Linked DNA regions of Homo sapiens. The protein of the gene in region 2 purifies or fractionates together with the protein of the main gene of each other region. This does not show direct contact. Each region holds a gene or a part of one and is shown on either strand. Other genes may lie near its edges.

The links. The genes of interacting proteins can lie anywhere in the genome.
Region 1: the proteins of PHF12 (region 2) and QSER1 purify together in Homo sapiens (affinity purification with mass spectrometry, with the first as the bait; one large-scale study listed by BioGRID). This does not show direct contact.

The regions. Positions count from the first base shown.
Region 1 is NC_000011.10:32,895,795-32,899,447, reverse strand, and holds part of QSER1 (glutamine and serine-rich protein 1), read right to left. Parts: intron 1-3,653. UniProt on the Homo sapiens protein: Plays an essential role in the protection and maintenance of transcriptional and developmental programs.
Region 2 is NC_000017.11:28,944,894-28,948,546, forward strand, and holds part of PHF12 (PHD finger protein 12), read right to left. Parts: intron 1-3,653.

The DNA.
Region 1 (3,653 bases), on a different chromosome or scaffold from region 2:
CTTTAGTACTCATTGTTCCAGAGAACATACCAAGGAAAGGAAGAAACAAGTAGTAGCCCATATCCCCACCCTGCTAACCAAAGATAATCACAAACTTACCCTTCATCTTGGTCCCAACTACAGGGTAGAGGGGGAATGGCATTAGAGGCTGCAACAGGAAGAAAGGGGCTTCCAATTCCCACACTGAAGCAGAGTTCTGGCTTTCATGATATAAGTATGTATTAAGCACCAACTATATGCCATGGATTAAAGTAAATACTAAGTACTACAAATATAACAGCAAAACACATAGGGGTTCTTCAAATAACCTCCATTCTGAAGAAGATACGTATTACATAAACAATACATAGGTATATATTTCTAAGAATATGAAAGTAAAATAAAATATTCTGTGAAAACATATACCATTGCACAAAGCAACAAGGAGTGAGGGTTGAAAATACTGCAGGTTTCTCACATGAGATACCTTAACAAGTCAGTCTGGGAGGTGGGGATAGGGTGAGAGTTATCTAAGTGAAGGTAAGACGATGTATGAAAACCTTAAGGTAAGAAGGAATTTAGGATGATTCAAAGAATTTAATACAGGCCAGTGCGAGGCATGGTGGCTCACGCCTGAGAGGCCAAGGCAGGAAGACTGCTTGAGGCCAAGAGTTCCCGACCAGCCTGGTCAACATAGCAAGACCTCATCTCTACAAAAAATTTAAAAATTAGCCAGGTGTGGTGGCACATGCCTGTAGTCCCAGCTACTTGGGAGGATCACCTGAGCCCAGGAGGTCGAGGCTGCAGTAAGCTGTGTTCATACCACTGTACTCCACCCTAGGCAGCAGAGTTAGACCCTGTCTCAAGAAAAAATAAAAAAGAAAATAAATTAAAAAAAATTGGTCAGTAAACGCAGAGCCATACAGAGCACATTACAATGTGTGTGTGTGTGTGTGTGTGTGTGTGTGTGTGTGTGTGTGTGTGTGACAGGTTCTCACTCTGTCGCTCACACTGAAGTGCAGTGGCACCATCACAGCTCACGGCAACCTCCACCTCCCAGGCTCAAGCCATCCTCCCACCCCAGCCTCCAGAGTAGCTGGGACCACAGGCGCACGCCACCATGCACGGCTAATTTTTTCTATTTATTTTTTGTAGAGATAGGGTTTCACCACGTTGCGTAGGCTGGTCTCAAACTCTTGGGCTCAAGCAATACTCCCACCTCAGCCTCCCAAAGTGCTGGGATTACAGGCGTGAGATATCACGCCTGACCATATTACAGATGTTTAAAAATGTGACCCTAATATGTAGGAGTAGCCATGGAAAGGCTTTAAGCAAAGGACCAAGAGCAAACTTGTAGATCTGTGTTTTTAAAAATCACTCTGGATGGTATAAGAAGAATGAATTGAAGAGAGGAAAGAAAAGGTCCAAGATGACTAAGTTAGGAAGCTACCACAGTTGTCCAAGTGAAAAATAATGGTGGCTTGGACCAGCTGGAGCAGTGGATACAAAAGAAGCAGACAGTTTCAAGACATTAGATTCAAAACAGTAGGTCTTAGTGACTGAGCACACACAACTCCCACCATCTGGCCTGGGCAACTAAGTGGACAGAGGTATGACTACTGAGATGGGCCTCACTAGAGAAGCAGAGGTGTGATGGGTGGGGAAAGCATATCATTAAGCTCAAGTAAAAGGTCAAAGAGGTAGTTGGTTATGTGATCAGGTTTTCAGAAGAGTCTGAGGTCCTGAGAAGAGTCTGCTCAAATATGGGCATCTCCACTGAGATAGTATTTAAAAGCATGGACGTGGATGTGAGTCCGCAGGAGAAAGCAAGGAATGAACAAGAAATTTATCAATCCCAAGCCCTGAGGAAACAGTAACATGCAGAGATTAGACAGAAGAGGAGTAAACACCAGTGAAGAACAGGAAAAAGCGTTGGGCCAGAAAAGTAGGAGGAAAACCAGGCAAGTACAGTGCTATGGAAGTGAAAAGGAATGTATTTCAACTAGGTAATGGTCAACGGTGACAAAGAACACTTAAATAAGGATATTAATGATGCTTAGGTTTCCAGGCCAACTCACAGAAACTCATTTCACATATAGGTGGATTACAGCATTCCACTATCTTACAATAAAGCAGTGCAGTACACTGGTTATCACATAGGCTCCAGATCTGCAATGCCCAGGTTTCAATCACAGCACCACTATTTACTAGCTATGTAGCTGTAGGTATAAATTACTTCATGTCTCTATCCCTCAGTTTCCTCATCCATAAAAGGATGGTAAAAAGAATGCCTACCTCAAAGGATTTTTATAATGAATTTTGATAAATGAATGTATGTATTCATTTATTCATGATAAATGAATTTTGATAAATGAATGTACGTGTGACTTAAAACAGCTAGCACAAATTAGTTGCTAGTGATGTAAATGACAGCTACTATTACTTACAACACGGTTTCCATGGGAAAAAACTTTCTGAACTCTAACAGTGGAAGTTTGTCTGAAATAACCTTTCATTAACTTGAGATTGTTCTTACGCCTTACAAATTATGATCTATAAGGCCTTTTCCCAAAAACCTTGAGGAAAACTCTAGATTTGAAATGTATCAAACAAATGTCCATCATATAGAAACTGACAGGTTTTAGAAGAGCTAATCATTACTTTGGTTTTTCAGAGGAGTATTTATCATACTCATTATACCTCATACTAAAAAAAAGTATGCATTAGGAATTCTAAAAACTGGTGCCAAAAGTTATTTCAAGTTAGAAAGGCAAAAAACAGGCCAGGCACGGTGGCTCACACCTGTAATCCCAGCACTTTGGGAGGCCAAAATGGGCGGATCACCTGAGGTCAGGAGTTCAAGACCAGCCTGGCCAATGTAGTGAAACCCCATCTCTACTAAAAATACAAAAATTACCAGCCTGGCCAATGCGGTGAAGCCCCATCTCTACTAAAAATACAAAAATTAGCCAGGTGTGGTTAGCTACTCAGGAGGCTGAGGCAGGAGAACTGCTTGAACCCGTGAGGCAGAGGGTGCAGAGAGCTGAGATCACGCCGTTGCACTCCAGCCTGGGCAACAAGAGCGAAACTCCATCGCAAAAAATAAAATAAAATAAAATAAATAAACCTATTTAAATACAAAATATTTCCATTCCCTTACTTTCTGGTGCATATTCAAATACGAACACATCGATTATCACCATAAAACAGCCTGCCTCTTCCTGTTGTGACCAAGATATAAGTATCAAGTACAGAATGCGGCAATGGATCTGCAGACTCTTGATGACCTTCTTATTTCCCAAGCTATGCAAAGGTATTTACAACATCCAAAACTGCACCCCAAAAGGTATTTCCAACTGCGTGGTGTTCAGCAAAGGACATGTTCATTCATTTAGTTCCTAAAACGAACTGAAATTAGCATAAATAAATGAAGATTTATATGGCCAGTCCTTATCCCTGTACTTTCCAAGTACCTAGCAAGTACTCTGAGAAATATTCAAAAATCTTTCTATAAGCCCCATTTAAGGTATAATGCTGGAGTTTCCCACTCTATTTTTCCACTGTTAGTACAATAAAACTACCTAATAACTAACAGAGCTGTTGTATTCAAAAAAGTATTGTTTCAAACTCATGAAAAGCTGTTTATCATGTACCTTCCCATCAACTGATGAAAA
Region 2 (3,653 bases):
AAAGTTAATATATTTTAATCTATCACTTGCCTGATACTATTCTAATGAGGAGCTAAACACAACAAAATCAGAAAAACCACCTCCTTAAAAGTTCAAACAGGTTGGGCATGACAGCTCACTCCTATAATCTCAACACTTTGTGAGGCCAAGGTGAGAGGACTGCTTGACGTGCCTGGGCAGCATAGTGAGACCCTATTTCTACAAAAACATTTAAAAAATTAGCCCAGCATGGTGGAATGTTCCTGTGGTCCCACTACTTGGGAGGCTTAGGTGGGAGGATCACTTGAGCCCAGAGTTTGAGGCTGCAGGGAGCTAGGATCAAGCCTTGGAGACCCTGTATCCAAAAACAAACAAACAACCCCACTTCAAACATCAAACATTTTCTGCAAGGCAGTTTTCTATTCTATGTGTGAAACCTTTGTTACGACTCACTGAAAATATGCAAAACTCCAAGCTGAGCTTAGTTTTGCCTGTGCACAGAGACCTTTTTACTCTCATTCTTCGAAAACCTCATTTTGGATCTCGCTGCCAACACCAGAGAGAGGAAAGCTGGCCAACAATTCCAAATATAACACGCGGAGGCAAATGCTACAGAAATCTGTCTGACGGGAAGGGACCATGCTGAGGTCTGCCGAGGTAGATGCACTTCTCTATCAGACCATTTTGGTCCCTCAGTCTGTTTGGAGCAAAATGCCATAAGAAGGTAATCACAGGAAACCAGTCAGTTTTATCATCCTGATTACTGATGCCCCATGGTATTCACTCTGTCAATGACAACAATCCTACCAATCTCAAACAGAAAGATGGGTCAGTGAAAAGTAAAGCTGTACTGGTTATTCTAATTTTTAACAGATTTTTTGGGATCAGTCCAGAGACCTTTCAGAAAGCTCAACTCATGGCATGATAATTATGATGAAGTCAGATTCACCAAGGGACACTTAAAAACATATCTCCCTCCATGGCCGGGTGTGGTGGCTCACACCTGTAATCCCAGCTCTTTGGGAGGCCGAGGCGGGTGGATCATGAGGTCAGGAGTTCGAGACCAGCCTGACCAACACGGTGAAACCCTGTCTCTACTAAAAATACAAGAAAATTAGCCAGGCCTGGTGGCGTGCGCCTGTAATCCCAGCTACTCAGAAGGCTGAGAAAGGAGAATTGCTTGAGCCCGGGAGGCGTTGCAGTGAGCTGAGATTGCGCTACTGCACTCCAGCCTCGGTGACAGAGCAAGACTCCGTCTCAGAAAAACAAAAACAAAAACACCACACACACATCTCTTTCCAATTCTCTAGGGACAGGTTTAGTAACCCCTACTATCACTCTGAATAATTGATAAACCAGTTAAACTTGGATAAAATGATTACACTATCACTTAATCAAAAAGACATCAGTTCTTCAACCTTAATTCTTTGGTGAGGTCACGGTACTGAGCACAAGACAATTCATTCCAGAGAATCATTACAGAAAACCCAGAAATAGGTTCCCAGTCTAACTGGGAAGAGATGACGTGCCTCATACAAAGCATTGTCTCCTGAGAAAAGACAACAATTAAAACAGCTTATTTGACTAGTCATTTCCTTACTATTTATCTTAGAAAGATCTCCTGTGGTTTATAGCTGTGTTACCAAGCCCGGGAGGTAAAGTTTGCCTAGAACCACTTTTGGAACACTTGTACTGGATTCCGTTCACAGTGAGGCAGACTGGCAAGGAATACTAGAGACTGAAAAAAGACTTATCCCACAGAGCTTTGGATAGAGAACCACAGCAGCACTGCAATTAAGACCTACAGCATTTGCAAAATTTAAATTTCACTTTTTCTTTAAATTTTGTAGAGATGGAGTCTTGCTATGTTGCCTAGACTGGTCTTGAACTCCTGGCCTCAGGCGATCCTCCCACCTTGGCCCCTTTAAGTGCTGGGATTACAGGCATGAGCCACCATACTCGGCTTCAACCTTACTCTTGTACTTTCCGTATGGAAGGAAAATTATCATTATCATGCCTACCTAAATAATTCAGTCTTAGCCAGTTTAAAAGGGAAGCCAGAGGAAATATAACCTTACTCTCACATGATAAAATTAAGCAGTAATAGGACAATTTTTTTTTTTTCTCCTGAGATGGGGTCTTACTCTGTCACCTAGGCTGGGGTGCAGTAGTGTGATCTCGGCTCACTACAACCTCTGCTGCCTGGGTTCAAGTGATTCTCCTGCCTCAGCCTCCTGAGTAGCTGGAACTACAGGCTCGTGCCACCACACCCGGCTAATTTTGTATTTTTAGTAGAGACGGAGTTTCACTATGTTGGCCAGGCTGGTCTCGAACTCCTGACCTCGTGATCCACCCTCCTCGGCCTCCCAAAGTGCTGGGATTACAGGCGTGAGCCACAGCACCCGGCTGGGACAAATTCATGAAAACACATTCAAGAATAAAAATGTTCTGAGACATTAAATACTTGATCTAACTACTCTGATTGAGTTAATAAAATACTTCACTCTCCAGCCTGGCCAACGTGGTGAAACCCTGTCTCTACTAAAAATACAAAAATTAGCTGGGTGTGGTGGCGGGCACCTATAATCCCAGCTACTTGGGAGGCTGAGGCAGAAGAATCCGTTGAACCTGGGAGGTGGAGGTTGCAATAAGCCGAGATTGCACCACTGCACTCCAGCCTGGGTGACAAAGCGAAGACGCCTGTCTCAGAAAAAAACAAACAAACAAAAAACAACAACAAAAAAAACTTCACTCTTGGTGGAAAGAGTGTGGCTTCAGACGCAGAAAAGTGAGATAAGCCTCACTAAATGAAATTCGTCTAGGGAATACCTACTTAAAAGACTTCCTGCCTTTGCACCAATATCTACAATGCTTTGTGATTTAGATAATAACTCAGATAAGTCAATGGTACATTCAGTATTGACATCTTCAAAGGGAGAATTGGAGATGTGAAACAAGCACTACTTCATTTACACATTCACAAATCTCTGATTACCAGTTCCCATTCAATGCCTCAAAAAAAAAAAAAATTTCAATGAAATGCACAGTCTGGGCAAGTCTGAATCTCACCAACAGCTAAAGAGTCCCTCCTTCTTTCTCCTTTCATCTAAAGTGGAAACTGTTAATTGTTACAACTTGACAAGACTTTAGACTCGTCTAATTAAAAAATTCAGAGGTTAGGTTTTAGAGTTTAAAAGCCCAATCTCAGGCAAAACAGACAGCACACTTTTCCCATGCCTGAGGTTTCTAATAAACAATTTCAGCTTTATCAAATAAGAGAGCTTATCAAATTCTCACTCAACATGCATGTCAGCAATCATGGTTAACACCAATTTCATCCTAGGAGTAGGACGTAAGCCCACATTTTAAATCAAGAAGTCTACAACTCAGTCCTGGTATACATACCAAACAAACACACTAAAAAAATGTAAGCAACTGGGAATAACTGGTAAGCAACACAACGTATATTCAGGCACAAATTTCTCCTAAGAATAGCAAAAGAAATGTGACCAGAAATATCTTCTCCAGGTGGATTACACCTTATAGGAAGTAAAGGCTAAAAACCACAGACCCTTAGTCACTTCATAATAAAAATTTTAAAGCCAGCAGCAAAACTTCCTCTACGATAATCATTTTTGTCCCAGCAATTTTACAAGCTGGGATGGGGTGCCCTC